Linked DNA regions of Homo sapiens: region 1 is linked to region 2. The links come from fine-mapping of genetic effects on gene expression. A gene starts in region 2. The other region holds a variant in brackets. All regions are shown on one strand. Distances are from middle to middle. Region 1 overlaps PDE4B (phosphodiesterase 4B). Region 2 holds the start of PDE4B (phosphodiesterase 4B).

Region 1 (8,000 bases), 530 kb after region 2:
TCTCCTATCAGTCTTTCCCTGTCTGCGTTCATGAGCATACTCTGATGTTCCCCTTGCCTGGAATACTTTCCTCTCCCTTGACACTTAATTCTTATTCCTCAAAATCTCATAACTTTCCAAGGCAGGCCTTCCTTCACATCCCACTTTTCAGATTTTGGGTCCCTGGTTATCCCTATTATAAATGTTTATAGCATTCTACACTTCTTAGTATCTCTGTTCCAAGTTGTACTAAGTTTTTGCATAATTATTTTTCTATTCCTCTTAGGATATAGGCTTCAAGTAAGCAAAACCTAATATTCAGCACTATACCCTTAGAGTTTCATGATGTGCCTACAACATAATAGGCACTCAAAAATTTTACTCATTAATTATTTATCGTATCATATTCAATAAATAATAGCCAACATTCATCTGGTACTTGTAATGTACCATGCACTGTCCTAAGCACTTTACATTTATTTATTTGTTAACCAGATGCTACAGCCCATTAAAATAGATACTATTATTATTCTCATTACACAGATGAGGAAACTGGGGCACAGAGAAGTAACATCTTATGTAACAAAGTTTTATAACAGTAAGTGGTGGTACTGGAATATGAACCAAGGCAGTCTAACCCCAGAGACCAAGCTTTTAATCACTGCTCTATATCCTTCATAAATATTTTGTCAATATATTTACTTTGTTAGAAAAATAATTGGACAGCAGCTTGCCTCTATCCCTATCACTTTCTTGTGTCATTGGTCTTCAATACCAATACAGGTAGATAATTAAGTTCTTTGAACATCCCTTCACATTGGTGGTACATGTTTTAGCTGGATGAGAACAGATTCTCGTTAGCATATAAATGCCAAAGGCAGAGTTCTGGAGAGCAGGTTTTCCTAAGGGTAAGGACATTAAAAGAGTGGGAGGTAGACCAAAAGGAAACAGTGCTATGAGGCTGGCACATCAAAGACATAGTTTTGCCTTGACTAAGCCTATCTCTGTAAAAGAAAGAGAAACTTAGACCATTTATTTATAACAGGCCCAGTGGTTTAGCAAAAAAGTTATGGAATTTAGAATCAATATGTCAATCAATATAATTAAAATGTCTCCTTCATTCTCCCTCCTTTTCCCATCTTCCCCTCTCAATCTCTCTGTCCTTCTTCTTTGCCTCCCTCCCTCCCAGCCGCATCATATCACTTTGAGCAAATTGTTAAATGCATCCAAGCCTCAATTTTCTCACATTCATAATGGAAAATGTATGTCATAATGATAATAATTTCTCTCTTGGGGTTATTTTTCAAGGAAAAAAATGAGATATGCAAGTGAAAGTGCTTGGTAAACTGTCAAGTTATATATATAAGAGCCAGTTGTGATTAGAAGTTTTGTTTTACTTGTAGTCTTAGAGGAATTTGCTAAAGAGATCGGCATCAAAATGACCTACTTTTCACTGTTATTTCCCTTAAGGGCAGTGAACCTCTTCTTTTATGAATCCACCCAGAGTGAAATCCCTGTCATATGCAATTGCAAAGTTCCATATCTATAAAGACATGCTAACAAAGTTCTGCCTAAAGAAAGGCTATATAGGGCTTGCAAACTTTGGTCTTGGAAGAATTGCATTGCAGTGTGTACATGTTCTCCTGTTCTTATGATTTGTTCCATAGATACTTTACCCAAGGTTAAAATAACATGCCCTCTTGAAATGTTGCACTCTAACCTGAGTGTGCTTCATTTACCAAATATTATATATTTGGACATAATAACTCATGATGAAGAAAAATTATATCTAACTCTAAGGGAAAAAATCACAACCAAGATTGCCAAATAAATAGATAAATAGGCCAGTAGCCTCAACCTAACACCTTTGCATAAAGAGATGCCAATTCCTATATGTATGAAACTATTTTACATTTTATCAAGTACTTATTGCACTATGGGAAGGAACCGAAGAATGGAGTAAGTATGCTAACTTAAAGGCATGTAGAGCCATAGGAGCAACCCAAACGTAAGACATCTACAGGGCTAGAAGCTTGTGAATGAAGCTAAAAGTAAAGCTGAATGTAAATAATCCAATTAATACACACTTCTCATTTACAAAGATCAGAAGATTATGGGAGGAAGCTGAGAAGGCGCCTAGCTTCACAGACTTACTATTTATACAAGGAAAAGGGATTTCCAATATAATCATTCGCTACAATGGACAATACCACTCCTGAAGTGTATTGTTCATTGCTGTAATCCAGCACCCACCCAGCAGCAGGCTTGGCACATAGCAGATGCTCAGTGTACTTTTGCTGAATGAATGAACAAACAACTTCCCTATACAATTCTCCACATCTGAAAGGCCACTGACCTGGTATGTCAGTTAGAATTTTGTGAAAAAACGATCCATCAGGTCAGCTCTATATTTTAGAAGTGGAAACCAACAGTCTCTAACTTAAGACAAATGTCAAGAATGCATTTTTCTGAAGTCCTACAGTGGGAAGGACGCTTTAGGATTTCATGGCCAACCTTACAAATGCTTCCTTTCCCAGGGCCAAATCAAAACTCTGTCAATGACTCAGCTGTCAAATACATGTCAATATATCATCAGGAAAGTGACCCAGGACCAGAGAAGTGGTGGGAAGGAGGGGAGAAGTTCCTGACACGTGCCGGATGCTGTACCAAAGGCTTGGCGTATACTGATTCACTTAATTCTCACACCTAGTTTAAACTATCTTCCTGTTTTACAGGTGAGGAAATGGAAGCACAGTGGGCTACTTTTCTTGTCTAAGGGCACATTGCTATTAAATGGCACAGTTATGATTTATAAACAGCTGGGGCAGACTCTACTGTGTTCCACTGAATTTTGAGTTAGTAGGGCATCCTGGTCTATGTCACATTAAAACCAACATTTGTCGTTGTTTTTTAGCTATGTGAGATTTACTCAAACTCTGTTGATACCCATTGTTATAGCTAAACAAAAGGAAAGGAAATGTTTTTTAGAAATTCTGCTCTTGTTTTTTTAAACTGGGCTTCCCCTAGATGGGACTATCTGTTGAAAGCCTACATGGACAACCAGAAAGACAGCAAAGTGCACAAATCACAAGTTTAGAAATCAGTGAGTTCTTATAAAGTGAACATACCTATGTAACCAGTTCCCAGACCAAGAAATAGATCATTGCCAACCCTATAGAAAGCCCTTCAAGTCCCTCCTGGTCACTAAGCCCACAAGGTAGCCAATATCTTGACTTCTATTACTATAGATTAGTTTTTGCCTCTTTGGAACTTTATGGAATTTGACCCATACTATTTTTTCATATACATTTTAATATTTGGTTTCCTTTGTTCCACATTTATGTTTATGATATTCATTCCTGTTGCTGCATGTGGCAATTGGTCCAATTGTTTTAGCCACTAGAATAACTTTGCAAATAGTTACCACCTTCTCTAATAGAAAGGGAGTCCAATTATGTGAGGCCCATAAAGGTTATGTACAGCTCTTTTCTGTGTGCTTTCTGTGGATAGAAAGTGTGGGTGACTTGACAGATAAGTTTCTGATATATAGAGATATGTTGGAATATCATTTAGATATAATTTATAGGAAATTTATATTTGGGTAATATTGTGATGCTTTCAATTGCTAATCATGTGTAATTGAGGGCAGAGCATTTTTTCCTCTCAGCCTCAGTTTTCTCAACTGTATTACAAGCCATGAGACTTAAGGTTTCAAAGTTAAATGATGCCAGATACATAAAGGGCCCCTGTGCCTACTTTTCCAAGAGATCAGTGTAGTCATAAGATTACACTTCCCTGCACAGATTGCAGGGCCAGCTTTTAGGGCACCTGAGGTCTTTCACCAGTGGGGCCACTGATTTCATAACTGCTAAAATGTGTCCCCATGTTTTCTAACTATGAGCAACTAGCTATTTGTGGCCAGGCAGAGGTTTCTAATTACCCTTTCCTGTCACTCTTCTCTGGATCTCTCCCTCTTCCCAACAGGACTCTGCTAACTCACACACCCATTTCTACTAGATTGGCATTTAAAAAGCTGGGGAAGTTGGTCTATGAACCTAAGTATTAGATTAACTGAAAAATCATTGAAACAGAAAAAAAATAAAAAGATCATTGACTGAAAATAAGAATGTTGCTCAGCAGTTTGTACAATGTGATCCTATTTATGTTATATACATATGTATGTTTACACAGACACACAAACACATACATGACATGCACAAAGGAGTCAACAATGGTGATCTCTGACTGCTAAAAATGTGAGATTTTTTATCATTTGAATTTTTGGCTTCTCTGCAATTTTCTATTTTTCTAAATGTGCCTATATCCCATCTGTAACAATAAATGAGATATTTGCAAAATATATTTAATACTAAAAGGTTTACAGTCCATTTTTGTGTTTATTCTCTGATTCTACCTTTCCCATGAGAATAGGATATTTTTCTTATCCTCATTTTAGAGATAAATAAATTTAGTCTTCGAGAACATAGGTAATTTACCCAAGGTAACCCACTGAAGCAAGATGCAGGACAAGAACCATACCAGGTCTTCTGAGTAAATATTGCACAGCTTCCCTGTGCATTAGGTAGATCAGAAAAGGGAAGTGGAGACTTCAGAAATGACAACATTTAGGAAAGCAGTTATGCAATTTTAAATGGAAGAGATCCGAGGGTAAGATGCAACTTTAAATGCAGCATTTTCAGGAATAGGTGCATCTTTCAGTGCTAAACTGAATCCTCTGTTTCATAGACCAAGATATAGTCTTGCTAGGAATCTGGAGGGAACTATTTGCTCTAATAATTTAATCTCTGATTTCTTAGTTTATGCCTTAAGGTAAATAAGATAATCATCCTACTTCCGTATCTATCACACAAAGATGTTGCAA[A/C]GATTAACGAATAGTGTGCTGGGAGCTCCTTTGAGAAAAGAGCTATTTGAATACCATATATCATTAGCAGATTAATATTATAATTATTTACTAAATTTCTCTTCCTGTTTCTCAGAGTCAAATGCAATACCCAGCAAACTTATAGAAGGAAGAAAATCTTTCTGTGCCACTCTTGTTGGAGTGAAAGAGGGAAAGAAGAGAGCAAGAGAAGGGAGGTTGGTTCTCCCTACTTCTTCCCTCTGGAAGTTTTTGAAAGCGAAGTTCAACTGCATGACCATACATGGTCCCATGACCTACTCTTACTGCCTCTGAGATTTGCTTCTGTGGTGTTAAACATTGTTTCTTTTCAGGGCCATCTTATGTAAGACAGGAAGAGACCCAGTTTCATGGGCATGTAACCTGTTGGGTTGCACAGGGCCCTATGCTCAGAAGGGCTCCATATTTGCCATCTTAAAACTTGTAATAATACTATCTTTGAACTTGTGTTTTATAAATGATGTCTGATGGGACAATGGAGTATGTGCCAGTGGCTTGGAGCCTTGGCTCATGCACTTCCTCACTTCCTGTCACCTGCCTGTCTCCCTGGACAAGATCCTAACCATCCTCTCCTCTGCTCGCTGGTGCCCTAGGAATCGTCCAGCTTCCTTTTTCCCACCTGCACTTGTGACCATTGCTGCCCTCCATCCCCAATCAGGGTATAGGCACAGGGAGGGTCTGAGTTAGCCACATGTGCTTTGTAGCCTCAGATGGGACATGTTAGCAGCCGTCTTTGCCCTGGGCTGGCATGGCTGTGGTAGACAGAGGCCAGGTCTTGATGGGGATGAACCTCTTGTCCACCCCTGTTTCAGGTACCCAGCATGTCCCTGCTAAGAGGTTGCAGTACCCTTAGCAGTATGCTAAGATCCAAGGGGTTGTCTGCTGTGGATAGGGGCTTGGGGACCATGAGAAGGGAGAAATACCTAATTCGACTTCCCCAGCTCTTGTGCCTGGTGGGGACACAGCTTGTCAGTCTGGCGGCTATCAGGAAGGAGTAGCCAGCTGCTGGTGAGCTATGTGCGTGCCCTTAGTCATAAGAGGCAGGGCCTTCAGGTTGCTGTGAGGGTCTGCACTCACCTCAAGGTATCCCAGTGCCTGAAATAATACAATATTTAAACACACCAAACCATTAATTGTGACAAGTGTACCATAATAATGTAAGACATTAACAATGGGGAAATTAGGATGTGGGATATGTGGGAAGCCCCTGTGTTATCTTTGCAATTTTTCCGTCAGTCTGAAAGTATTTTAAAATAAAAAGTATATGAAGAAAAAACCACCATGACAAGTTGAAAGAGAGAATGCAGAAGAAAGGAAAAAACTTTATATTTTAGTATCTTTTATAGCAATTTTACTGCTTTTTCAACAAGGGGCCCTGCACTTTCATTTTGTACTGGGCCTTTCAAATTATGCAGCTGATTCTTACTGTAAAATCCCTTATTGAATGTGCAATTCAGCTATCTCTCTTTCTTTTCTTCCTCACACTCTTTTCTACCCTTCAATGCCAGGCCTTAGGATTTCTCCAATTGCCATTAGTAATTCTCCTATGCATCTATCACCTACTAAGAACTGGCTACCATCCTAGGCACTTCATATATTTTATCTTATTTAATCCCTTTATAACTTTATGAGATAAATATTTTATCCTTCTTCTACAGATGTATGAAATTGAGGTCTAGGACCACACAGTAAGTGGTAGAAGAGAAAGTCAATATTCATGATTCTCACTCCAAATCTGGTGCTTTTTTTCACAGTGCTACAGATGGACCATTCAGCCTTCAGGTGCCCAGGTATTTGTAGGATGCTTAGGCAATTTGGTTTCCATTCCTCCAATTATTTACTGAGTATCTCCTAGGTGCTAAAACTACAAAGTTATATCAGGGAGGCCAGTCCTGCGCTGCTCTGGTCATTTTCTTTGATTGCATTCATAGGTAGCAGGTGTTTGATATCCCCCTATTTAGTACACTCTAACCTCTGTGCCCATGGCTTAGTTGCCATGATAGGAAGACTATAAAGTGGACACAAAGTCTTGACTGTGAATTAAGAATTTGGAAAGTGATACTCTAGCCTAACTAACATTGCTTCAAAATGTATTAATTTTTGCTTAAACATTTTGATGGCTGATCTGAAGAAGAGAGGACAATGGAGCAAGGTCTCTTCATATCCATTACCTGTTCACCCACATCTCACGTTGTACCAACTCTAGAAGTACCTGAGTGCTTGTTCCATGCAGTAGACAATGAATGAGCTCACTGGTGTATCTTTGAAGAGTCCTTCTCTTTTTTGTACTTCTGCGGGTATAATTACTGTATGTATTTCCTTGGTCAAGCTTGAATAGAAATCAGATCCCTTTTTTCCTCTGCATGAAGGAGAAATGTGATGTATCATCTTGCAGTCATTTTGCATATCAGTGGATTCAAAAGGCTAGGAGCAAGCTACTTTCTCCCCACCGTCCTGGTGAATGTCCAATATTAGTTACAGAGAACCACAGGTTGTGATGTGGAAGACATGAAGGTAGTAAATCCCCAGCAGCTGGGAAGTGGTTGGACTTTTTCCTTTATTAGAGGCAGGGAATGAGAATGGGAGGGTTCTGTCTCTTCAGAAAAGGCTTCCTTGGAAGAAGTGCTCTTCTGGAAGCAAACAGAGGAGGCAAGGGGTTGTTTCGGACACACTAGAGAGTAAGTCAGAGAATCTTCGTGTTGAGGCAGCATTGCAAAATTGAAGATGAAGAAAGGAAGGAAGGTATGTGTAAGTCTGGCTTGAAATGAGTTTTATTAAAAACACCTCAATTCTTGTCTGCACATTTTTGAAGAGTGTGAAAAAAAAATGGAGGAAGTTACCTCCAGTGGTTTTGTGGCTTTTTAAGCATGACATACAGGATATTGAATTTAACCCCTGTTTATCTTGAAGTGTATGAATATTTCGGGGATAAACAAAGCAACTATTCTTTGAAATATGCGTCTGTGGCCAAGTGATTCCAGTTACTTGGAATCACAGTTCTGTTGATTCTCTTTTCTGCTTCAAGTATTTGCACACCACAGACATAAGATTATTCATATAATAATTTTTAAAAACCATGTGGTCTTGCTAGAATTTCTGTATA
Region 2 (13,442 bases):
GTTTAACCCCTTATAATTTCTTACTTTGTATTTATTTTTTTTATTAATTTAACAATTATTTTAAATATTAAAAAGGCTGGCTTTTCAAATTACACATTAGCTCTAATCACCTTCCTTTCTTAACTCATTTATTAATTCTTCTAAATTGTTTAATATTTTTTAGTTTTCTTCTATTTAATAGTTGTTTTTCTAACTTTTTGAGTTGGTGCATAATTCATGAATTAAGCTTAAGCTGTATCACGGAATTCTATTCAGTAGTGTTTTCATACCTCATTATTTTCAAGAAATCCTACAATTTTTGTTCATAAAGTTATTTAAGAGAGTTTTTTGTTTAGAATTTTCACGTGGAAAGATTTTTATTTTTCTGATTTTTCTATTAATTTCTGTTTTTATGGAATTGTGATCATATAGTGTTGTCCATAATTTCCTATTTTTGCATTTTATCTTTATGGTTTAATAAATGGCAATTTTTATGAATATAATATTAGCCCTTAAAAAGAATATGTAATCTCTACTTTTGAGGCACAAAGTCTGATATATGTAGAGTTTGACTGAGGGAGATGAGTAAAACTGTCCTATTTTTGGTCTGTTACTTTCCATATGTCTTTATATCTCTTGTAATAAAACTTGTATATACAAATTTCTGCTATGTATTTGGTTCATAGATATTTATAAATTTCACATCTTCATTGTGATTTTTACTTTTTCTATCATAAAGTGCTTTTCTTTGTTTTATTTAATACTTGTTTGTCCTGAGTCCAACTTGTCTGAAATTAAAGTCATAAGTACTGCTATATTATTATTATTCCTTTTCCATGTATTTGGGTGGGGGGAATGTGCAGGGGCATTATTTGGGTAAAACTCTGCTCTTCCTTTAATTTTCAACCATCTGAACCTTTTTTTTCCAATGTGTACTTATATATAGCATGGAGTTTTGGTTTTAATGCAATTTGAAAATGCTTTTAAAAAATAGCTTAAAATGTGTATTGATTGAAAAATATTTGTCACAATTCTTTGATATATACATGGATACGTGTGTGATTATACACATGCGCATGAGTTTATGGTTCCTCTGACATTTAACAAGGTGTGCACTAAGGTGCAAATTTGCTCTCCAGCTGCTACCTTTATAATTCCATCTTTATATACTCATATTCTCTATTGTTTTGGATATAACAGTTATGAGCAATGATAAATTGGTATGTATCCTCTTCTTTTTCCTATACTGCATTTTATCAGCTGTCATATTTTGTTTAAAAATTACATTTCTTAGTGTTTATCTTTTTATGTTATGCGTGCTTACTCTACTACTTGTATGTCAGCTTTAAATGACATTTTCAACCTCAACAGTTACAGGTGAGTCAGTCAATGAACTTATTCTAATTACCACCATCTTTTTTCTTTCCCTTCCTAACATTTGTGATTTGTGTCATTTCTATATTTTCAAAACCTATAACATTCAAACATTTTTTGTAGTATTAGTTTTACAGTAAAAATATATTTGGTGTTCACCACCAGTCATTTTGAGAAAGTTTTCCCTTTTTTATTCTAGTATATCCCCTTATGGGAGGAATATTCTTTGAGTTTTAATGTTTAAAAATATGACATTTATATATGATGAATAACTAGCCAGATATAAAATCCTTAGATCATTATTTTTTTTCATGAGAATATAATAAGTTTTGTTTCCATTCTCATTGGAACAAAAGCCCATTGTCATTAGGCTTTGAATGTTGCTTTCAAGAAGACTGAGGGTAGGTTGATTTCTTTTTCTTTCTACAAGAATTGATTTTTTTTTCTTTTCTGCTTCAAAGGTTCCTTACATATATATAAAACTCAATAATTTGTTAGTATATTTCTTTGTTCAACCATCATGAATCATTTTTTTCTACTACATGGTATTTATTTTGAACATGTAGATTGAAGTCTTTTTTTTATCAGTTTCAAGAAAGTTTTTTAAAAATTTTGCTTAAACATTTGCTCTGTTCCACTGATAAGGTTTTCTTCTTTTTTTTTCTGGGTGATTTTTTTTTTGTTTTAAAATTATTATTATACTTTAAGTTTTAGGGTACATGTGCAACATGTGCAGGTTAGTTACATATGTATACATGTGCCATGCTGGTGTGCTGCACCCATTCTTCTTTAGAGACTCCAATTATATGTGTGTTGTATTTCATCTATCATTATCAGTTTCACACAAATACTTTTATTTGCTATGTCTTACTTATCTGCAATACTTAGTCCTTTTTTGTATTTCTTCCAATATTGTCTTCATTTCTGTCATGGTTTGCTTTTCTTCTTCTTTCTGCTAAAAAAATCAACTAATTTCATCCTCCTCATCTCTCTCTTGAGTTTCTTCATTTGTGCCTTTTGGTTTTCCTTAATAGATGATGTTTATTTCTTAACATATCAACAAATATGCTTAATTTAGAGAAACTATGCTGCTTATGAATAAGAGCAAAGACTCTAGAACAAGATTAACTGTGTTTAAATACGGGGTCTTCCTCTAACTGTGTGATCTTGAGTGTTACTTAACTTGTCCCTTAGGTCTTTAAATCTATATAATGGTAATAATAATAACAATATCTAATTTACAGAGTTGTGTTGAGAATCAGTTGAGTTCATATCTCTACAAAGTGGTAAGAATATTGCCTGGCAACAGTAAATACTATGCTAAAGTATTATTAGTTTTTTTCTTGCATTTCGAAATTTATAGTCACAATTTTAATTGTCTCTGTGACAACACTTTTTCCTCTCATCTATTAAAAAGTTTTGATGCTAATTTTCTGAATTTTAAAAATAGTATGTCTGTATCTGTGTTATGCCAGTTTCTTCTTTATCACTGCTCACTATTGAATGAATTATTTTTCTGGTCAAATTCCTTAGAGAAAGTTCCTGAAGTGGAGGTTGCAAAGTGGCTTTCCTGTTCTCAAAACAAATAGCTCCCACTTAATGATCCCCAATAATTGACACCTCCCTCTACCCATGCCCATAAAATACTCCCACATTGACTCTGGACTTAGCTACATGACTTGCTTTAGCCAACGGGACATTAACAAACACAACACATACAGAAGCTTGAAACTTGAAAGTGTGTGAACACTACAGCATGAACACTAGGCTGCCATTTCTCTTGCTACTGGGAACATGTCTACCTCCATGTGAAAAAGCCTGACTAGCTTCCTGGGAAAAGGCCCTAGGTGTCCAAGCCATCCCTTCCAGAGGCCCAGATTTGTGAGTAAGACCTGCTGATACCGCATGGGGCAGAGATTAGCCATTGAGCCCACACAGCTGAGCCCATCCCAATTTTCCATCTCACTAAATTGTAGGCAAATCACTGGTAGCTTTTTAAACCATTGTTTCGGGTGGCTTGTTATGCAGCAATAGATTATGGATTCACTTTTACTGTTGCCTCACAAACAGACTGCTTTTAGTAGTTATGGCATCTTTGTATACTCACTTCCTCTGAGACTCTGAAGGGAATTATGTCCAGAAGATCCTTTTCCAGTAGTTCTCTGCTCCCCAGTTCTTAAAAAGAAGGAACAGGACTTTTACATTTCATAGTGATTTGACCATCTTCAAGCACTAAAGTTTTGCTGACCCTGAGATCTGCTCCTACCATGTTTCTGGGAACTCCCTGTTCTCCTTTTGTCATCTGTATGTATGTATCTCTTTTGCCTTCTTCCTTCTGCTTCTGCTCCAGTTTTTGAGAGACAGCTTTGCATTTTACGACACACCTCTCATTTCCCAGAAAACATACTTTTGCTGGCACTTTCTGATACTTCTAGTGCTGGTTCCCATTGCCTCTCCCTGGGCCTTTTCCATATGACTTCTGCCCAAACTCAGCTGCTTTTGGTAACCTTTAGAAGCGCTTTGGGGTTTGTAGGTAAAATCTATATAAATTTGTTGAAAATGGTGTTTGACAGTTTTTTTCCATTCTCTTTGTTAGTTTATGTAATTTTTAGAAAGAGATGAGAAAGATGCTTAAAAAGCTGACATCATTTTCTACTGGAATCCGTATATAATTCTTTTTGCAGTAAGAACTCTTTGGACACATTTTTCTGAAGATGATGTAATAACCTTGGGAGGCTTAGTAATTATTAATACCTTTCAAATTTCTCATATTCAAAAAGGGGCAGCATGATGCTCAAATTGGTTCTTTTTTTCCCCTAGATTGAACTACAATTTAGATTCCTTACACTCTCTTTAGGCAATGGTTGCCTTATATTTAATACATCTAACTAATCCTAACTGTAGTTCAGAAAAAGAGATTCCATTATCATCATTTTACAGATGAAAACTGTGAGAACAATGACTACATTGCGGATTTTGTTGGCTTCCTTTCAGGTGCTTATTGCCTCACTATTATTAATTTTGGCTTTGGGCTCAATTTCAAGGTTATGGATGAGGTAGATGGTATAGTGTAAGCAACAGGTCCAAAAAGGCAGAATAACCAGCGAACACTTGGTAGCATCTCAGATGTGGGGAAATAGGTGTTTTATACTCCAAACGCTAGTGTTTGAATATGTTTCCTCCAAAACCATGAAGGGGAAAGTTCATTAAGTTCCTACACTGATAAGCTCTTAGACATGCCTTTCAATGTACAGGCATGTAAAGCTATTTTGGGTGAATGGGTGAATAGTAGGTTATTAGGTTATTGCCCTTCTTTGGGAGGTCCCTATTTGTCCTTTAATACACAGTTCAGATGGGATTTAAATTCCCTGACCTGTTCCTTCTCTTACATAGAAAAAATTGCTTCCACTTATGCAATTGGCATGTGCTTCTGTTGTGAAATACTTGTGTTGTTTGTCTCGGGCTTTCATAGTTGGTTCTCCTATTAGGCAGTGAGCTCCTTGGGTGCAGAGACTATGTCCTAATCGACTCTGCATCCTTAGCTTCTGCAAAGTGCTCAGTGCACAGTAGGTGTGCATGATGTTTATTGGAATAAATCGAGAAACAGGCGAATGTTGTCTATTAAAGTCATTTTGGTCTCTAGCTACTGTAGTAGTTGGATAGGCAAAGTTACTTCATGCCTATCTTCCTCCTCTTTTCCTTGCCAGCTTCCTTCTTTTTTTCTCTGACTGAAAGGGCTGGACAACCGGGGAAAAGGAAACTTGTGCTTTCCAGCATACCTCTCCCACTCTACACACACACACACACACACTCTCTCTCTCTCTCTCTCTCTCTCTCTCTCGCTCTCGCTCTCGCTCTCTCTCCATCCTGTTGCATTTTTAAAGCAGGCTCAGTCAGGTTACTGAGTGCCTGTTGCTCCATCACACGAATTCCCAAGTTGTGGGACTCACCTTCAGGGGTGTCTTGGTGGAGCACCTCTTGGGAGGTGATCTGACCTGTTGGTTCAGGAGCACTGCGCGTATTCACTCTGGCGCTCCTTTGTGCAACAGGAGACCAGAGGACTCCCACGGTCCCACTGGCTCCTTCCACGTAATGTGCCCCGCTGGCTCTCTCGCCTCCCCCAACCCGGGGGTCTGCGTCCCCTGCGCCCCAGTCCCTCTTTGTGCAGCCAGTAGCTGCAGAGCTCTTCGTCTTGTATTCATGGCAGATGCACAGCGAGTGACTGACACGTTCCAGGGACGGCGAATGGGAAAGAGCGCGGGCGGCCGGGGGAGGGTGTGTAGTGGCAGACGGCCGCTGGGATTATGAATGGGGGCTGGGGGGCCGGCGAGTGTGGGGTTCAAACCAGGATTTTCGGTCTCTGGCTTTGGATAGGCACGCAGGGCTGTGCGTAATCCTTCAGCTCTGGTGGTAAGGGAGATGCAGTGAGCTCCCGGCTGGGAGAGAGGGTTATTTTGCAAAACTCCCCTGGTACCGTGCCCGCGGAATATTGCAGGAGGTCTGTGAGGTAGGTGGGGGAAAAAATAACCTGGGAGGGCAATCAGGGAGAGGCCAGACGACTGGGGACGGCGTGCTTTGCACCCTAGAATTGACAGGTGGTGGCCTCAGCAGTTACAACCTACTACACAGCATCTCGTCCGTGCGATACGGTCACATTGTTATTCCCCGCACCCGGCTGAGGAGCGCAGCGCGGCAGACCAAGTGGCACCGGCGAGCTGTCTCTCTTCCGGGGGGCGGGGGTGGACAGTAGGGAGAGGGGGTTTAAAGGGCCAGAGGACGAGAGAAGAGCTGAGGGGCGCGTCGCCAGCGCCTGTGTCTCCCTGGCGCGGGTTCCCCAGGCTAGCCCGCTGGCCCGTCCGCGCGCGCGCCCCCGGCCCGCGCGCCCCTTCCCGGGGCTCCTGGCCTCGCCTCAGCGGCTGCAGGCTCTTCGTCGCGGGCCGGGCTGCACGCGAGCGCCCTCCGGGCAGACTTTCGTCCCCCACCCCCGGGAGCGCGGAAGGCTCACTCGCAGCGCATGGTCTACCCGCGCCGGGCGGAGCCCCGGCGTCCAGAGCGCTGCGGCCGCGGCGGTGCAGCAGAGGCGCCTCGGGCAGGAGGAGGGCGGCTTCTGCGAGGGCAGCCTGAGGTAAGGGCTGCCTAGGAGGCTGCGGGTTTATTTTTCCTCATTCTCTTACTTCATCACACACTGAAGCCTCAATGGAGAGTGTAGGGTGCTGTGGGGCTGATGTGGGGCAAAGAGGGAATGGGGCCGCCGGGCCTGGATGGTCGTCTTGACGGCGTCATTGTCGCCCCTTGTAGGAAATCCGCCAACCGGCCCCTAGCCTTTCGCCCTCATCTTCTCTGCTTCGGCTTCCGCCCTTGGACCTCTTGACAAGTCACTGGGGAGGAGAGGATGGAGAGAGGCTAAGGGAGAATGGAGAGAGGCAGAAGGATTCAGGGCTTGGAAGCCCTGGAGTAGGTGACGGATGGGCGCGCGGTGCCCAGTGATTGACTGCAGGCAGCGGGCGCGGAAGGGAACCTGAACTACCCAAGAGTTTGCTGGGCTGAGGCTCCAGGATGCTCCTGCGTGCCCTGGTGGCTGGGGCACCAAGGAGGGGCGCACTCAAGCCTCGGCATCACCAAGGCTCTGCCAGGAACTTTTGGGAAGATTTGTCTGGTGTTTGGTGAGGGGGCTTGGACCTTTCTAGCTACAAGAGTGTGTTGGGGAAGGAAGAGGCTCTCCTCCTTTCTCCTGTCACTTTCCTTCATGCCTACTCTCTTCTTCCATCTTCCTGTTTTGCCTCCTTCCTTCCCGTTTTTCACAGGCCACCTTCCTTGTGCGGTACTTCAAACACAAATCGGAACCCACTATGGCCAACAGCTTTAAAGCGTGTATAAGGAGGAGCGCACAGAAGAATCGCTCTTAATTACAGTAGTTATATATGTGTGTGTGTGTGTCTGTGTGTGTCACACACGTGCCTGGGATAATTTTTAGCAAGACTTTGAGACGGTCACCTAAAATTACATTGTACTTACATTAGGTTTACATCATAATTATATGATGCCACTGAACAGAAATGGTAACTCTATGCATTCTGCATCTTAGATCTGAGATATAACTGTTCTTTGAATCACATGCATCGTTTAATTTCAAAGATTTCCAGCTGCTGGAAAACTCTTGGCTAAGTTATAAGAATGAAAGGCACATTAAGCATAAAAAAAGTAATAAATGTCCAGATACTATTTTTATTAGTAGATCATACTCCCCCTCCGTTTCCTTTTGCCAAAAGCTGTTATTATACCAATTATATTCATAAAAACGAAACAAATTTGGAGATTTCAGTGTTTTTACCTACAACCTGAAGTGTAGGTAGGGGTCTAGAATTTATCTGTACATGAATTCACAAGAAGATAGATAAGGCCAATGATTTCACTGCAGGTAAAGGAAGTTGAGCTTCTTCTCTCTCAGGATACCTCATTTCTTGGTATCCCAAGAGAGAAATCCCCTTAATGTCAATAAATATAGCATTGGTCTCTTCAGCTCTTCAAATCAATACTTGTAGGACTTGACTGTAATATGTTTGCTGGCTGTTTCTATTCTTTTTCATTTTCTAAACAACAACGTGCCAATTTTGTTAATTTACAAAAAATAAGTAAGATTGTTAAATGGACTGGAATTTATGAGATGGCATGATCGATGCATTGAGGCTGTTTATCTATATATCTATCATCTTTCTATTTTTCTTGTTACAGTTGGGAGCTAAACAATGTTGCAGTGTGTCTACTTGTATTTTTATCAGCTGATTTGCTTTTCAGTTTCTTTATGGCTTGACATATTTTGCAAAAATGAATTGTCTTAAATTTCTCTAGAGAGTAACCTGTTAGACATACTGTTTGCTTTCAAAATAGGACTGTTTTTTGATTTGAGGAATAAGAAATCAATCATACATGGTTTTCTGATCTTGGAGTCCTTTGCCTGTCTAGAGACAGGTATTTAAGTATTTAACAGTAATAGTTACTGTGTATGTACAAATAAAGGCTTGTTTGATAAAGATACTGGACACAGAAATAATAATTCCATTTTGGTTTACAAATGCAATATTTAAAATTGTGAAGAAATAAAGAGTTCTAGGTTACTCCTAATATCTTACTTGACTTAATTTGGCTAAGGAGCAAGAGGTATATGAAGAGGTCTTCAGTTAGAAAGATTTGGTGGTTAGTAATTTATTATCATGTCATACAATTTCACCCATTTCTATTTCCAAAAACCTTCAAACAGCATAGTTTGGACAAGGTTTAGGATGTTGCTGACCACAAAACAAATGAGTTCCTTCAGGCACTGGCTATTGTAGCCACCATGTGGTAATACAGTGGACACTGTGATGTGCCAAATCGTTCTTCAAGGAGGGACTTGTTGCCCCAGCTTCTGGGAGTGTGGTCAACAGATGGCCTTCAATAGTCAGACTCTTCAGGGATTGCCTGAGCTGTAGAAAGCTCCCTTGTCCAAGGTCACACCCCTTTCCAGCGCAGCTCACATCCAATGGCTGATCCATGTGGGAGTATAAAGGTTGGGCCATTGCAGCACAACTCTGGAAAACTCTGAAGGATCTTTCTAGCTCTGGAGCTCCCTGAGGGCTTGCATTGCAGCTCTACTTCTCTCTTTGGTCCTTTCTGTTTCCTTCCCCATCCTTCCTCAGGTGTGGATAACAAGGCGGTTCCCAAGAAAATAGGGCTTTGAACTTCATTTCAGAATTAGCTTGCCAGGGAAACCCACCTGTGACTATGTTCTTACCCCATACATTCATTTTGCCAGTTTTAATCCATTGGTCTTTTGAAATGTGGTGTTTCAACCATCAAATATGATATAGAAGATGCATATGTGGAAGGAATTTATAGTTGACAGTTTCTTTTTCTTCCAGCACTTGAAAAATGTTATGTCACTTCATTTCAGGCCTCCCTGGTTTCAATGAGAAATTTGTTGTTGTTTGAATTGACGTTCCCTTATACACAATGCGTCATTTCTCTCTGGAGAGTTTCAAGAATATTTTCTATATCTTCATTTTTTGGAAGTTTGATTATGATGTGTTTTGGCATGAATTTCTTTTGGTTTGCTCTGTTTGGGATTTGATGAAGTTTTTAAAATGTAGGTTTGTCTTTCACCAAGTTGGGAGATTCTTAGGCATTATTTCTTCAAACACAAAAGTGTTTCAGCCCCACTCTCTTTCTTATCTGCTTCTGTGACTCTGATGATATGAAAGTTGGATCTTTTGTTGTTGTCCTACAAGACCCCGAGGCTTGGTTCATCATTTTTTTTTCTGGTATTTTCTCTTTGTTCAAATAGAAAACATTCATTGGTCTGTTTTCAAGTTCGCTGATTCTGTCCTCTGTCTTCTCTACTACAGAGCCCATCTAGTATTTTATTTTGATTACTATATTTTTCAACTCAATAATTTCCATTTGGTTCTTTTTGCAGCTTATGCTTATTTGCTGAGACATTCTATTTTTTCATTAGTTTCTAGAGAATTTGTATTTGCTTGCTGAAACTTTTTTTTTTTTTTTTTTTTTGAGACAGAGTCTCACTCTGTCACCCAGGCTGGAGTGCAGTGGCATGATCTTGGCTCTCTGCAAACTCTGCCTCCTGAGTTCAAGCGATTCTCCTGCCTTAGCTTCCTGAGTACCTGGGACTATAGGTGCGTGCCACCATGCCCAGGTAATTTTTTGTATTTTTAGTGGAGAAGCGGTTTCACCATTTTGGCTAGGATGGTCCCGATCTCCTGACCTCATGATCTGCCTGCCTCAGCCTCCCAAAGTGCTGGGATTACAGGCTTGAGCCACCGTGTCTAGCCTGAAACATTTTTTTTTTTTTTTGAGATGGAGTCTCGCTCTGTTGCCTAGGCTGGAATGCAGTGGCACTATTTCCACTCACTGCAAGCTCCACCTCCCAGGTTCACGCCATTCTCTGGCCTCAGCCTTCTGAGTGGCTGGGATTACAGGTGCCCGCCACCACGCCTGGCTAATTTTTTTGTATTTTTTAGTAGAGACGGGGTTTCACCATGTTAGCCAGGATGGTCTCGATCTTCTGACCTCGTGATCCACCTGCCTCGGCCTCCCAAAGTGCTGGGATTACAGGTGTGAGCCACTGCGCCCGGCCAACATTTTTAGAATAAATGCTTTGTAATCTTTGTCAGATAATTCCAACATCTGATTCACTTAATTGTTGGTGTCACTTGATTGTCTTTTCTCATTCAAGTTGTGGTCATATTTTGGACATTTTAGCTATTGTGTTAGAAGGCTCTGGGTTTCTATTTAAATCTTGTATTTTAACAGATAATCACTCTGTTTAGGGTAACACACAGATCCTGGCCTACTTTTGTGGGCAGTGGTTTCAATGACAATTTAATTTCTAGAGGCTTTGAGGTGCTGTTAGTCTGCCTGGTTTGTCTGGTGCTTCCGGGGCTCCCACTGAACGCTGCTGGTGCCACCTGAAGGGGAAGAAGAAGCCTCCCCAGGCCAGGCCCTGTTGTGCCTCTAGGTTAGAGAAGTGTCTCTAAGTGACTTTCAGCCTTGCAGAAATAAGGAGCATTCTTAGACCTGGAACTTGTGGCAGGATTCCTGGTGCCAGTGCTCTGAGGCCACCTAGTATTGTCAAATGGACCCCAGTTAGATGCAGACAAGGAATGAGCCTACCTAGATCATTTCCTACTACTAGGTTAGGAGTCGGGAGACTCTGGGCCTGGGTAATCTGCTGTTGAATAGAGAGTTGGAAGACATCCACTGCTCTATTGCTCTACTGTTCCTCCAGCCTAGAGGTCACTAAGCAGTCCATTTCCCTCTTGCCACCATTCTCAGTCCTCCTTGGGATGCCCCTTGCATTATTTTTATTTTTTAATTTTAAAAATGTTTAAAAATTTATTTATTTATTTATTTATTTTTTGAGATGGAGTTTCGCTCTGTCACCCAGGCTGGAGTGCAGTGGTGCATCTCGGCTCACTCCAACCTCTGCCTCTCGGGTTCAAGCAATTCTTCTGCCTCAGCCTCCCAAGTAGCTGGGATTACAGGTGTGTAACACCATACCTGGCTAATTTTTGTATTTTTTTTAGTAGAGATGGGGTTTCACCATGTTGGCCAGGCTAGTCTTTTTTTTTTTTTTTTTTTTTTTTTTTTTTTGAGACGGAGTCTCGCTCTGTCGCCCAGGTCGGACTGCGGACTGCAGTGGCGCAATCTCGGCTCACTGCAAGCTCCGCTTCCCGGGTTCACGCCATTCTCCTGCCTCAGCCTCCCGAGTAGCTGGGACTACAGGCGCCCGCCACCGCGCCCGGCTAATTTTTTGTATTTTTAGTAGAGACGGGGTTTCACCTTGTTAGCCAGGATGGTCTCGATCTCCTGACCTCGTGATCCACCCGCCTCGGCCTCCCAAAGTGCTGGGATTACAGGCGTGAGCCACCGCGCCCGGCCGTGCCAGGCTAGTCTTGAACTCCTGACCTCAAGTGATCCACCTGTCTTGGCTTCCCAAAGTGCTGGGATTACAGGCGTAAGCCACTGCACCCGGCTTTTTAAAAACACTCTAGTTTAAATCCTCAACCACATTATCCATTACTATCATTGAAAATACTAGTTTGATTGTATTTCCCTGTAATATATATCTGTTAGGTGTGGAGACATAGTTTAAACCTTAGTTCAAGATAGCTTATTTAAATTAAGTTAATTAATATTACTGTAATTACAGAATTAAATGTCAAATCATACCCTGTCTGTAGAGTCTAAGACAAAAATCTTGGTATGTGACGTTTACTCTATGGAACATTTTTTTTTCAAGTTATCTTAATGCATTTGAAAAATATTAGTACTTCTTATTTATTGCCATCTTTGTGGGAAAGGCTAAAAAATCCTTTATCCTGTGGACACTTTAACCTTAGAGAAAGTAAATGACATTATTTCCATAAGCAACTTGCTGATATTTTGAATGGATTAAGGAGCAGATACCAGGATTCTGTCTTTGGCTCTCCTAGTATATCACAGTGCTGACTCATAGAATTATGGCATTTTCAGAACTGAAAGTGATCTTAGAGATCACCTATTTCAACCTTATTGTTTTATATTTTAGAAAACTGACATGTTAAAAAGCCATAAGGAAATCTAAGTTCCTTCAGTTCAGTGATGGCAGGGCTTGTTTATTCTGAGTTCTTAGAATTTCCTAATTTGATATTTTCTTTAAGAAATCAGAATTGCCTTCCTTTGAGAAGGCTTATTAAAAATTTATTTTGAGGTATAATCTCTCAGTACCCCTTTTTTAACAAGAAAAACTACTTCAATAAGTTGGGAGGACATGATTTTTTTAAATAAAAATAGGCTTGTTTGAAAATCTGAGGGACATATGGATTAATTATCCAGAAAAATGAACATATAGTCAAAAATTTGCATTCAATATTAAGTATTTATGGATTCCTAGGAAAGACCTCCAGATACTGTTTTGTGTTATACTCATGCACTAACTGTGGATTGTCTTTGTTGGGGAAAGTGATAGGGATAATGACTTATTTTATAGTCTGGGTCAGCCTTAAAGGCCTGTGGATGGTGACAGTTGTCCTGGGCATGCTACATTGGTATACTGCAGGATTTGTCTCCCTGCAGATTCTAGAGTGGCAGTAGGTGAGAAGGATGTAGCAGGACCAGCAGGTGTTCAAACAGACTGACTGTGCGAAATACAAACAGGGAACTCAGCCCACAGTGCTTGCTCTCTCCTCCCCCATAACACACACACATACACTTACAACATATATTAAGATTCCTTAGAAAGATTCTCCATCTGTTTCTTTCTGCTCTCACCTTCTTACTATATGGAGAAACAGTGTCCTTTTGAGATCATTCTTTTTCTGATAAGATTGCTTTAGTGGTCATTTAAAACCAATTTCACCTATATCAAATGTTAAGGGCTGAAAAAAGAAAGATTAAAGCAGCATCTGCTGTATATACTGGGGGGATTTTTCTAAGGGTAAAAACAAAAGCACATCCATGTTTTCCTTATATCATGGATTAAAAAAAATTAAAACCATAGAATGATAATGACTGAATTCAGAGATCAGGAGGCAAGGCCAGTATTGAAATTACTT

What was found.
Region 1: its variant is fine-mapped to the expression of PDE4B in whole blood (TOPMed, PIP above 0.99).

The regions. Positions count from the first base shown.
Region 1 is chr1:66,323,201-66,331,200 of GRCh38, forward strand. The region is part of intron 7 of PDE4B (phosphodiesterase 4B); the gene reads left to right. Among named protein-coding and RNA genes, the nearest start is that of SGIP1, 210 kb to the right of the region's middle. The variant A/C (reference allele first, on the strand shown) is at 4,862.
Region 2 is chr1:65,786,771-65,800,212 of GRCh38, forward strand. PDE4B (phosphodiesterase 4B) reads left to right here and starts at 6,125. Exons shown (of 17, transcript NM_002600.4): 1 at 6,125-6,478.